Linked DNA regions of Homo sapiens: all the other regions are reported to be linked to region 2. Evidence: microRNA targets listed by miRTarBase, many of them from high-throughput screens and not tested one by one. Region 2 holds a microRNA gene; each other region holds the end of a gene's coding sequence.
The links. The annotated mature microRNA hsa-miR-4682 reads UCUGAGUUCCUGGAGCCUGGUCU and lies in region 2 at 1,537-1,559, shown strand. An mRNA with a match to its seed (bases 2 to 7 or 8) in the 3' UTR can be bound and repressed. Matches are read on the target gene's strand: a 7mer-m8 pairs with bases 2 to 8, a 7mer-A1 pairs with bases 2 to 7 and ends in A, and an 8mer does both.

Region 1 (4,195 bases), not on the chromosome of region 2:
TCTTCTGCCAGCATCCATGAGACAGTAACTGCCCAGATCCAGTAGCAAGGACTGTCACCCCAGTGGTAGGGGAGTCAAGAACCCCACTGTCCTGTTAATGAATGTCTGGAGGCTGAGTGGCGGGAGATTGCAACAAACAAGCGGCCATTTGGGAGGAGAGTCATGCTAACATATTATCACAATGGCAATAACACTCATGACAATGGGCTGCTCAGGCAAGGGTCCCCACCACCACATCTCTCCCCGCACCCAGCTCCCGTGTCAGCAATGAGGATACACATTCTTGGGGGAGACTGAAACATTGGACTCCATCTGTTGAGCCCGAGCAGGCAGCGGCCAGAAAGTGCCCCTGGATCCGTCTCTGCTCTCCGACTCTGGGGAGAACCTTGGGAAGAAGAGACTCAAAAGTTCTACCTCTCCTGTAGCATGCTCCAAGTCCCCATCCCACCAGGTCCCATTGCGGGAGAGACGCTGGGTCAAAGGGTGGCTCAAAGTGGTGAGGACGCAGGGCCGACCCATAGTAGCCAGGAAGGGGACAGAAGGGGTCCCTGAGCCGGGACACTGTCCAGCACGCTGCAGGACAAGGGAAGGGAAGCCTTCACTACGTAGATGCCATCCTATTGGTTGACAAGTTGGAAGCCTTGAGTGCGGTGTTACCACGTCGCCGCCACAAGGGGGCGATGAAACCCCGAACACATTCCAAGTCAAGTTTCTGCGGACCATATACAGCGACAACGCTCTTCCCAAGGAAAAACTTCCGCCCCACCACCACTAATTAGGAAGTCCAGAGCGTCATTGGACTCTGCTACTGGAGAAAATACGTGCCTAGCTAAGCAGGCCTCTCCAGTCAAATGAAAGTAGTGCACTGAAAGGTGGAGCTGCCTGGTCCTTGAATCATCTCGGTTTTGCATGGAGGAGTGGCAGCTGTTCTTTTGGGGGAAACCTTAACTCCCACTTCACCACCTGAAACAAAACTGCTGGCACAATAGGGCCTTGATTCACAGGTAACCCCAAATGCCTGAGCCTCCTTCACCGATGGTTCAGCTAAACTGAAAACAAGGTGTGCAGCTGTGCGTGTTCAACCTCCATGCCAGCTCTGCACAATCCCAAGTGGTCACAGTGGCCTCACACCGTGGGCAGAACTCACAGCCGTTCTCATACTAGCAGGATGAGGCCAACCTGCAATACTGACCTCAACCATGACCCTCACAGTCGTAGAGGCAGCCAGCTGGGAAAAAACTTCAGGAGGGACCTACCTACAGATCTTAATTCAGACAATCAGAATACAGTCTGAGGCCAGACTATTTATTACAACCTACTCAAGGTAGTTTACAACCACCTGCTAATCTTTGCTGCCCTCACCAATAATCACAGGAAAAACAGATGCACCAAAAGACAACCCCTACCCCACTGGAGAGGCATTGGGTGGCCAGTCTCCCCACATGCAACCCAAAGGGGCACAGAGCACTTTGGTTAGCTTTGCTGTTACCATCCCATTGCTGTGGGTAAGTCACACAGGTAAAGTGGCTGCAGCCACTATCACCATATATGGCATAACCCAGAGACCCAGATGTCAGGAGAGGCAGAGTGTGGGGAAGCAGGAAACAGATGACTCAGTGTCACTACATATGTCTATATCAATATATATAGAGATATAAATATATAGCAAGCAAAAAAAAAAAAATAGAGGAGGATCTATAAGGTTAAGAGACTTATCCAAATCATGCAAATACGATGTGAACCTTGCATGAATTTTGATTCAAACAAACTAAATATAAAACACTTGAGGAAATTTTGAACACTGATCAGATTTTGGATATTATGTAATTACTGTTAATGTCTGATATGATGAGGTATTTATGATTTTTAGAAATAATTCTTACCTTTTAGAGATACATACTGAAATATGATAAAATGACATTTTGATATTTGTTTCACAATAACTGGTAAAAACCAGCAGAGCTATAATTTGATGATTGTTGTGAGTGAGTGATAGATACACAGGGGGATTATTGTACTATATTCTCTACTTTTATATATTCCTGAAAGCGTCCATAATAAAAAGTGAAAAAAAATAAGTTCTTATAGCAAAATATGCAGCAAAGAGGCTCATACCATTATGGTTTTGAGATGATTCATACATATTGCAAGCAAAATGGCTTATGTTTCCTTAAATGTAAGGAGAAAAACGCAAATAGGTGGTTTCTGTAAAGTTCCACACATCCACTGGTAGTTTTGATTTTCAAATTCAATACATCATTCTCAAGACGGGTTAAAATGCAAACATTTTTAAATGTATGGCCTTAGAAACACACTCATATTTCACAAGAGATCATCTCCAAGATTAACAATTCTGAGTAAAACTAACCTTTAATAGTGAGTTTTCTTTCTATAAAGTCATTATTCAAATACTCAGCACCTATTAAGTGCTAGGCCCTGTGAGTATAATGGTGAAGACAGAAGTCTTGCCCTCTGAAAGCTGACTGATATTCTAGTAGGGACTGTAGACATGGTAACATGCCACTACAGCAAAATGTGGTAAGATTCTGTGTGTGCGTGTGTGCCCGTGTGTGTGTGTGTGTGTAAGCTTTTAAAGAATAATTCTCAGGGTTGTGGTCATCATGAGACGGTAGATTACACTTGATGGAAATTTATTTCTCATGTCCTATCACTATCTTTCTTAATTCTGAATCCCTGGAAAGCTACTTCTTTAAAATTCCGGTTTAAATGTTGTATTTCATACTAACTAGATTAAAAAAAAAAATAGTAGAAGTGGCACAGAGGAGTTATGGCCACCCCTAATGTTTTGATAAGGATATTTCATTCACATTTCAAAGCTTAAAACCTTTTCTACAAAATAAAAATCCAAAATCTTCCCTTTCCCACCTAAATCACTTGTTTTACAATAAATAAACCCTTTGGAAACAGCCATGAGATACATTATCCTGTACGGTAGAAAGCATTCCTGGACAATATCAGATTTTTCAATTACAGTAATTATGCTGCCAATTTTGTCGGCATAATTATAACACATTTAAATAGCTTTCTGTAATGTAAAACCAACTAAAAAAGAAAGTAGACACCAAGATACCAAAATCTTTCATGCTTAAAGGCAAATGTATTCAGTTCCTTTCCATGCAGCACACAATAAGGTTATCTATGTGCTTATTTCTTTTCCAAATCAACAGTTTGGGACAACCTTTCAGGATCCACTCATCCTCCACGGTCAGCCATCTTGTAATGTGTTCTCATAAGTGTCTTGCATGGGGGTAAAGGAACCTTCTTGTTGGCCTACAGACTGGCCAAGTAGGGGGTGTACTGGGAGGAGAGCTAAGGACTATTGTCTCTTCTGCCACCATGAAGCTCATGGTGCCACATTGACTTGTACCAGCAGATGCTTAGAGAAGCCACTCAGATTTGCCATGGCAGGGAAGAAGGCATGGGAGAAGAGGAGGAGGGACTCGATGTCCTATGATGGAGTGTAGAGGCTGCTGGCTGGAAAAAACCAGGAACAATGAACATGAGGTCATCTTCCTTAGGATGCCATGCCAAGCAGAAAGCCTCCGAAAAATCCCCCAGTTACTAGAACATTCTTCTTCACAAATGACACCACCTGAAAACAGAAGATAGTACAATGGGTTGTTTTGCTAAGGATGTTAATAATATTAAGAATCATCTCTATTATACCTATGCCAGTCTTAACAATGTCAATCCCCTCATCGGTTACGTAATTTGCACTTTACCCAAAGGGCAATGGACTTACACTAATAGTCTATTTAATAATAATTAAATAGACTTACATATGAAAATGACTACTGGCTGGTGTGGGGAGAATAAGACTAGAGGGAGCCTGATGGGAAGGAGGATGCACATCAGGAGGTAGAGACAATGGCTCTTTGAATCAAGGACAAAGAAGGAGAGTTCATGGGGACAGTTATGGCGAAAGAGTAAAGCTGCACTAAATAAACTGGTTACAGAGGCAATTCTGTTTCCAATTTTGCTCCTTCCATCCTCTTTGGCATCTACCCTCCAATAGAGGCTTCTCATTTCCTGAAGTCTCTCCCCTAAATCTCTCCATCCATGCATTCCCCCCTGAAACCTGCTCCCAGGTAGATGCTATAAATTCTCATTCTCACACTTCACCACATCTAAGATGATTAACAGGTGACGTTCTTATTTCCTTAAGTTCCCAAAG
Region 2 (4,243 bases):
ACATACTCAGTCCTGGCTGGTGCTGTTGGGGAGACAGCTGGCTAGTGGGGGTGGGGTGCTTCTGGGAAGGCTGCCTCCCTCCCAGGAAGGTCCATATAGAATGTTTTCTGACCCTGATCACAGTCCTCAGGACAGTCATGATTGCTGCTCCTCCCAGTCCCGAGTGCTATTCATGCTTCATCTCCATCACCTCTCATAACAGCCACAGGAGCAGACATTGTCATCTTATTCTACAGGACAAAATTGGGAGTAAGGGAAGTCAGGAGACTTGATTACCATCACACATCTAGTAAGAAAAATTACACATGAAGCCCTTAGGACTGGCACCGAGGAGATGCTGAGTAAATGGCATTGATCATTGTAATACAGGGACTTCCTCATTTCCAGGGAGGAGGGGAAGATCATTTGTCCAGATGTATGTGCTTCTGAATTCACTATTGATTTTTATAGCTTTTCTGTTTCCCCCTTCACCATGTATTGGCATTTGTAAATATAGTCACATGTTTACCTGAGCTACAGTGTAACAGAAAGAACTCCAAGGTCTATAAACCTGGCTTTGAATCCAGGCTGCATTACCTACTAGCTGTGTGACGTTGGAAGAGTTACTTACCAGCCCTTGAGCATGTGTCCTCATTTATGAAACGTGGATAATAATAACCTCCGAAGGCGGTTTGAGGGTAATAAGGTGCTTATTAGCTCATTATCTGGAACACAGTCAGTGCTCAAGAATGCTAGGTATTATTATCCAAGTTATTGTGTAGATGGCTTATTTGGACAGATCACATGAAAGGGCCAAATGAAGGTATGCAAGAGTGCTTTACAAATGCATGTTATTATATTGTTAGAGAAACTCCACTGCATGGAGGAATTTGCTATATGAAAAATGGGCTGGGCACAATAGCTCACGCCTATAATCCTAGCACTTTGGGAGGCCGAGACGGGCGGATCACCTGAGATCAGGAGATTGAGAACAGCCTGGCCACATCGTGAAACACTGTCTATACTAAAAATACAAAAAAAAAAAAAAAAAAAAAAAAAAAATTAGCCAGATGTGGTGGCGCGTGCCTGTAGTCCCAGTTGCTTGGGAGACTGAGGCAGGAGAATCTCTTGAACCCAGGAGGCGGAGGTTGCAGTGAGCCGAGATCACGCCACTGCACTCCAGCCTGGGTGACAGAGCAGGACTCCGTCTCAAAAAAAAAAAAAAGAAAATGAATTGATACAAGAGACGTGCATGCCTAGTGGGCTAGAAATCTTGGTGTGGGGAACAGCATAGCATGAAGGAAGGAGGGAGGGAGAGAATGAGTGAGAGAGAGAGCACAAGTGCCAATTGACTGGGAGTTCCGGGCCACGCATGCATTGCCATGGGGCCTTGTAAAGTGCCCAGGATTTGGAAGGATACTAGGGCTAAAGTGAGAGGGAGTCTCCCAAGGGAATGTGAGCCTCTGGAGGCAAGTGATGGTTTTTTTTTTTCTGAAGCACCCTCAGGAAACTGCCTGGAGCCCTCAAGAACGTGGAGGCCTGAAGTGCTGCCCCTGGTCTGAGTTCCTGGAGCCTGGTCTGTCACTGGGGAAGTCCAGAGCTCCAAGGCTCAGTGCCCAGGGGACGCAGAAGTCACGAGCAGGGTGAAGGTGGACAGTGTCACTGAAGGATCCTAGGCAGGGGGAAAACTGAATCCAAGTCAAAGGGCCAGTACTTGGGGGCTCGACACAGAAAAAGGCTCAGGGGAAACCAGGCGGGAAACTGAGCCCAGAGCAGTAGCTCTGCATTGAGCTGTGGTCCAAGGGGCGCCATTCACTTAAAGCACAATCCCATCACCCTTGCCCCAGGTACACACGGTTACCCTGGCTCGAAAAGTTCCTAAATCAGGGAGTCGTCTATAGCGATTCTGTTCACACGAGACTGAACGCTGCATGCGGGTGGGTCACTAAGCCCCCACGGGAATGTGGATTTTGTGTTTTTATTTTGATGATGATCCTTAGAAAACAAACACACACACGGCCGGGTGCGGTGGCTCACGCCTGTAATCCCAGCACTTTGGCCGAGGCGGGCGGATCACGAGGTCAGGAGATGAGACCATCCTGGCTAACACGGTGAAACCCCGTCTCTACTAAAAATACAAAAAATTAGCCGGGCATGGTGGCCGGCGCCTGTAGTCCCAGCTACTCGGGAGGCTGAGGCAGGATAATCGCTTGAACCCGGGAGGCGGAGCTTGCAGTGAGCCGAGATCGCGCCACTGCACTCCAGCCTGGACAACAGAGCGAGACTCTGTCCTAAAACAAACAAACAAAGCGAAACAAAAACAAAATGCAAAAGCAAACAGAAAACGCCCACAATGTCTCTTTATGGAAGGAGACATCCAACCAAGTCTTTTCCTTCTGGCTTTGTAATCCAAAAATGTCCTTCTAACGTGTGCATCCTCTCAGGATGACACGTGGCACCAGCCAGCAGTCTTCTTGGGTGGATTCTAGGATGGCAGAACATAAAGGAATGGCCTTTGTTTGTTTGTTTATTTAGAGACAGAGTCTTGCTCTGTTGCCCAGGTTGGAGTGTGGTGGTGCGATCTCGGCTCACTGCAACCTCTGCCTCCTAGGTTCAAGCGATTCTCACGCCTCAGCCTCCAGGGTAGCTGGGACCACAGCCGTGCGCCGCCGCACCCGGCTAATTTTTTGTATTTTTAGTAGAGATGGGGTTTCGCCATATTGGCCAAGCTGGTCTCAAACTCCTGATCTCAAGTGATCCGCCTGCCTCAACCTCCCAAAGTGCGGGGATTATAGGCGTGAACCACCACGCCCGGCCAGGAATAGCCTTTGAATTTAGACCAATTCGCTTTCAGATATTGACTCTGGACAATTTTCTTAACCTCACATTTATATTAAGATTTTGTTCTTACAAAAATAATTGTAAAAATTCAAACTATGCAGAGATACACCAGGTAAAAGGTGAATTTCTTCTCTCTCTCTTGTCCTAATCCCTCTCCTATTTACATTTCTCTACTAGATTTTTTGTAGCCCTTTTCCCAATATTTTGTGGTTTTGGTTGTTGTTTGAGTGGGACTTTTAAAAAACAATTTCAAGTTGGTTATTGTTCGTACCTAGGAAAGTATTGGTGACTTCCCATTGGTAGCGTGTCCATCTGCCCCACTCCTTTCTCTCATTAGTGCTAATAGTTTTCAGCTGTTTTTCTTGGTGTTGTTGAGCATTAGTTTTCTCATCTGTAAAATGCAGATAATGTTGACCTTGCAGAGCTTTAATAAGGATTCGATGAGAAAAAGTAAGGAGCTTAGCTTAGTGCCTGGCTCAGTAGGGGCCTGATGAACTTGTACTTTCACTAATATCATCCTCATGATGAGATCTTTTCTGTACAACTCTCTTCTCTGATTGTGGAGAAATGGATTATGGAGAAAAATGATTCAATCAGAGAAGGCTCTGCATATGGCTGCTTATACAGAAAGACTGATGTCAACCAAGGGGCTGCCAATGTTTATGTTTTTACTCTATTAAGGAGGGGAGGGGTGAGGAGGGGAGAAAGAAAGAGAAATGGTTGTACAAATATCTCATGGAGTCTCTGCTTTCAATTCTTTTGGGTATAAACACCAGTGGGTTTTTGAGAGTTATAGATCACTGTGAAAAAAAATCTCTGTGTACCTTTCATGGTGTCAGTAGCTCTGGAAAGAGTGGCCTGACCAGTGCACCCTGTGCTTCTTAGTCTACCGTGACAGGAGGGAGGTGTCTGCATCTGATGGTTACTGTGTGTTGAGCTTGCACAGTCCCCATCAGCCTGCTATCTGAGCGCTCAAGGCTGCAGAAGACCCTGAATGAGTGTGAGATTTGTAGTTGTTATTGTTAACTTTCAAGACTTCCACAAATGTACATTTTTCTATTTTATTGTATAGTTCCAATGGCTAAAATGACCCTGAACAAGGTGCAAAATGCAATAAAGCATCAACAGTGGGCTTTCAGGTAAATAAAAATGCAGCAGGAAGAAACAGCAGCAGGGAAAAAAAAATTACTGGGAAACCCATAATGAAATGCCTGCGCTATCTTTTACATTTCCCCCTGTTGTTTAAACTCTCTATATTATTCAATGCAGCATTGTTTGTAATGGCAGAAGATTGTAAATAACCTCAATGTCTATCAATGGGAGATGGTTGGATAAATTATAGTCCTCCACACCAGGGGATACTGTATAGCTGTAAAGAAGAATGCTCAATCTATTTGTTGAGAAAGGTCTACCAGACATTTAA
Region 3 (4,204 bases), not on the chromosome of region 2:
TGTTTTGCTCACCTCCGACTCACCTCCTATATTCTCTTGCTGGAATGTAGCTATAAAAATTGATTTTTTTTCTTTTTCTTTTTTTTTTTTTTTTTTAGGGAGTACCATATTTTTGGGATTCAGTGGAAACTTTAAACCATCATGGACTAAGCTATTTACCAGTCCTGCTGGACAGGGCCTTGGGGTGCTTGAACAATTCATACCTTTGCAGCTGGACGAATATGGTTGTCCCAGAGCCACCACTGTCCGCAGAAGAGACCTGGAACTGCTAAAGCAAGCTTCAAAAGCACATTAGAGACTAACTGTAACTTAAGTGCTGGGGGAAAAAAAATGTGAACTAACTTATTTAATTTATGGCATTTTAAAATGACACTGTTAACCCAACGGAACCATTTTCCAGTTTGATACAGAATGGGGAGAAAAGAAAGCGTTTGAAATTATTGCTTGGATACCAGCTTCATGCACCTTCTAGTTGTACAAAATGTTAAAGACGTTGTTTGTATTTGTAAGGCTGGTGTATTCAGAGAGCAGATCTCTTATTCCTCACTTTCCACCCCCGTATTTTGTAATGACCATGAGCAATGTTTTTACTTTTTGTATAATGGGGTGGGGTGGAGTGGGGGCTTCTGAGAGTCAGCCTGAGGTCTTTAGAGGACCAGCTATTGTAGCACCTTGGATACTTGAAGTTTAATGCTCAGTTGGGTCGGGTGGCAGTTGACTTGGTGGCTGGCATGTTCAGCAGTGCCTGGGGCCCTGTTTCTGGGCAGCCTTTGAGGATTTTCTATGATATTGAATGACAGTTTTAAGTGGCAACTCAGGCCCAGCTCATGCCCTTTTTTGCCTGGACATGTGCTATTTTTATTCACTTATATATCAATTACTTGTAAGGGTTAAACTTTCAAACAGGAAGTATATTGGGACAAAAGGGCTCTTGGGGATTAGATATCCCTTTAATCTGTGACCATTGGGCAAAAAATTTTCCTGCAGCAAAAGTCTGAGGCTGTTGGGACCATTTTTGCAGCTTTAATCCTTAGCCTCTTTTGACTGTATATTTGTGTTTAAAATGCAGAGCTCAACTGAATATTTCCTTTTTTGTTTTGTTTTGTTTTGTTTTAAGAAGTAGGTTGTTTTCCTGAACCGTAAACTTGTATCATTTTAACTTGCACAAAGGAAGTCTGTTCTTGGTATTGCTCTTGCACTTGGGTTTTTTGTTATTGTTTTGTGTGGATTTTTTAAAGCTTTTCTGTTCACCCTCCTGCCAGGAAAATCCCAGAAAGCTTAATGATACCCCAAAATGATTACACCCAGGGAGGAAAAAAAGGAGCGCTTTCTAGGGTCAGAATCGTGGAGAGAATACTCAGAAATGAACCTCTTTAAAGCCTTGCAGGAATGAGTCACTCTTACTTAATGAAATGTTAAAGCCAATTAAAAAGCATGCTGTGATGCCCAGCTTCCCTTTCCACAGGGTGCATGCGTCTCCTGCTGGTGAATCACATGCGGCAAGAGGCAACTGGCTCCACAGCCTGGGATGCTGCCGTACCAAGAGGAAAGAAGCAGCAAAATGCCTTTACGTTGTTCTAAACCCCCGACGCATAAAGTGTAGAGGAGGGATGGCCAAGGGTGGGTGGTAGAAAGTGTGTTCAGGCTGACACTGGCAATGAGTACAGATAATTTCACTTTCCTCTTCTAGGGGCAAAGGCTGATGGCCTCTACCTTTGTATCCAGGAGAAACTGCAGAGCAGCCCTGTGACTTTACAAAATATGCTACCTCAAAGTGCTACCGATAAACCTTTCTAATTGTAAGTGCCCTTACTAAGGGCACATGTCTTAATCAAAGTTAGTTTTTTGTTTTCTGGTTTGTTTTTTTTTTTTGTATATTGATGAATGAGATCTTACCTATTAAATATATTATTGGATTATGGTTCCTGAAGGTCATTAGAGTGTGTGTGTGTGTGTGTGTGTGTGTGTGTGTTTTATGACTTAAATATCTTTACGTGTGTTTTTTAGAGCTTGGTTCTTTAAAGATTTGGAGAAGATATGTAAATTACCAAGGCACTTGGTTTTTCTGTTTTATATACTAATAATCAGGGCCTAAGTTAAATAAAAATATGTGTGCATGTATTTTATATATGTGTGTATGTGAATTTATTTATTATTTATTTTATTATTATTGTTATTATTTTTGAGATGGAGTCTCGCTCTGTCACCCAGGCTGGAGTGAGGTGATGCAGTCTCAGCTCGCTGCAACCTCCACCTCCCAGGTTCAAGTGATTCTCCTGCCTCAGCCTCCCAAGTAGCTGGGATTACAGGCACCCGCCACCATGCACTGCTAATTTTTGTATTTTTAGTAGAAGTGGGGTTTCACCGTGTTGGCCAGGCTGGTCTTGAACTCCTGACCTCAAGTGATACTCCTGCTTTGGCCTCCCAAAGTGCTAGCATTACAGGCATGAGCCACCGCGCCTGGCCTGTATGTGAATTTATATCTCTATCTATAAATTTAAAATTCCAGATTCCAGCTGTAAAGAAGTTACTGACGGAAGTGAGGAAGACACTTGGTGGACAGAATCCACCAAGTAAATATTGTAAGAGTAAGCTTCAGAAGGGCAGGGACTGTATTCTCCAAGGCAGAGGTTCTCCATCTTGGCTGCACACTGGAATTACCTGAGGAGCTTTAAAAAAAAATATAGAGGCCTGGACTTTACTCCCTTCCCCCCAGATTCAGATTTAATTGGTGTTGGGTGCAGCCTGAGCACTGGAATTTTTTTTAAAGCTCCCTGGATGATTCTAATATGCAGCCAGGTTTCGGAACCACGGCACTAATATAATAGGCCCACTGTTTAACTCCAGTCTGTAATTTTTTTGTGACTAAAACAAAATTGCATTTACCTATTATTTTTATTTGCATTTCCTATATTACTCACAAAACTCCCAGCCCTAAACAAAGCATTTCTCTATTGTCTCTTTTTAATAGAAGCTTTTAATACAGTTTTTAGTCCTCAGTCCTCTCAAATCATTAAATTGGTTCTATACACTGATATATACATTTCAGGGAATTGGGAGCTAGCAATCTGTTCTATTTCTACCAAGAAAATATATTCAAAGGTGATTTATAAGTTCATAAGCATTTTCCATCAGGTGAGGCAGTTGGTTGAGCTCCAAAAATGTGGTCGTCCACAAATCAGCCAGCTGACGAGCAACACAGAGGGCTCTCATGTATCCACAGACTAGGGTTTAAGTCTTTGCTGTGATTCCTGCCTCTCCACCTGAGTCAGCATGCCATATATTATCTTCAGAGGCTGGAAGAGAGTGCTGGCAAGAAGATGAAAGGCAGACGCACCATCTCATGGACTATGACTGCAAAGCAGCCTCTAAGCTGATGTTTAGACTCGGGGATGGGAAGAGAGGATTTATGACTCCTCTGTTCTCTAACTTCATCAAGAGACAACACATCCTCATGCCATTAAAGTGGGTTACTTTGTCTTGAGGAGGGGAAGGTAATGAAGTGACAGATCGAGGCTTGAGTGCTTTAGATAACTACAGTAGGTTTTCATTCCTTAAGAGATGAGGTCATGTTTGGATGTGTCTGGTTGAGAAGCATTTCAGTAAGAAGGAATGAGCTTAGTTAGTTCAAGTGTTTTTTTCTGTTGTTCCTAGTAGATAAACACAATACATAGATTCAATGATGACAATGTTTGTTAATTTCATCATGCAGAGTTGGAGCTTACTTCTGGAATTCTTATTTGGTTTCCAGATACTTATTAAACAATGTTTAATAACCTGAGAAATTCCCCTGGAGGTAAAGACCTTTAATAGGGCAGCAGATTTGTATCATTACTGTTAGTTATGATTACATTATTACTGTTATAACCCAGTGTGCTGGAAATGTGAGCAGACACTATTTAAGCTAGTTTTCAACAAAAGGTCATGGAGGGAAAAAAAATAAAGGAACTCCATTCCTGGTTCCTTGCTCACAAATGGCAAAATGCTGTTCACAGACTTGCTAGACCATTTGAGTCATTTGGAAGAGAAAAGGTTTTTTTGTTTTTCCCTTATTTATCTTCAATTTGAGAAAAAAACTAATAAAAGGATGCTTCAGTAGGCCCTGGTGTTGTGGATAAGGGCACGCACACTTTTTATTTTTATGTGGTAAATTTAGAGAATGACTGACTGAACTGTGATTTCTAAATGAGGAACTGTGCCCCAC

Region 1: miRTarBase lists FUNDC2 as a target of hsa-miR-4682. Seed matches in the 3' UTR shown: 7mer-A1 at 2,353-2,359.
Region 3: miRTarBase lists CEMIP2 as a target of hsa-miR-4682. Seed matches in the 3' UTR shown: 7mer-m8 at 812-818 and 7mer-A1 at 1,356-1,362.

What each region holds. Positions count from the first base shown.
Region 1 is chrX:155,054,013-155,058,207 of GRCh38, reverse strand. FUNDC2 (FUN14 domain containing 2) reads right to left here. Exons shown (of 5, transcript NM_023934.4): 5 at 1-3,613. The coding sequence ends at 3,536. Among named protein-coding and RNA genes, the nearest start is that of CMC4, 15 kb to the left of the region's middle. RefSeq lists enhancers at 480-774, 439-940.
Region 2 is chr10:119,956,986-119,961,228 of GRCh38, forward strand. It overlaps MIR4682 (microRNA 4682), which reads left to right and starts at 1,528; the gene lies at 1,528-1,607.
Region 3 is chr9:71,681,288-71,685,491 of GRCh38, reverse strand. It overlaps CEMIP2 (cell migration inducing hyaluronidase 2), which reads left to right. Exons shown (of 24, transcript NM_013390.3): 24 at 99-2,126. The coding sequence ends at 295. Among named protein-coding and RNA genes, the nearest start is that of CEMIP2, 85 kb to the left of the region's middle.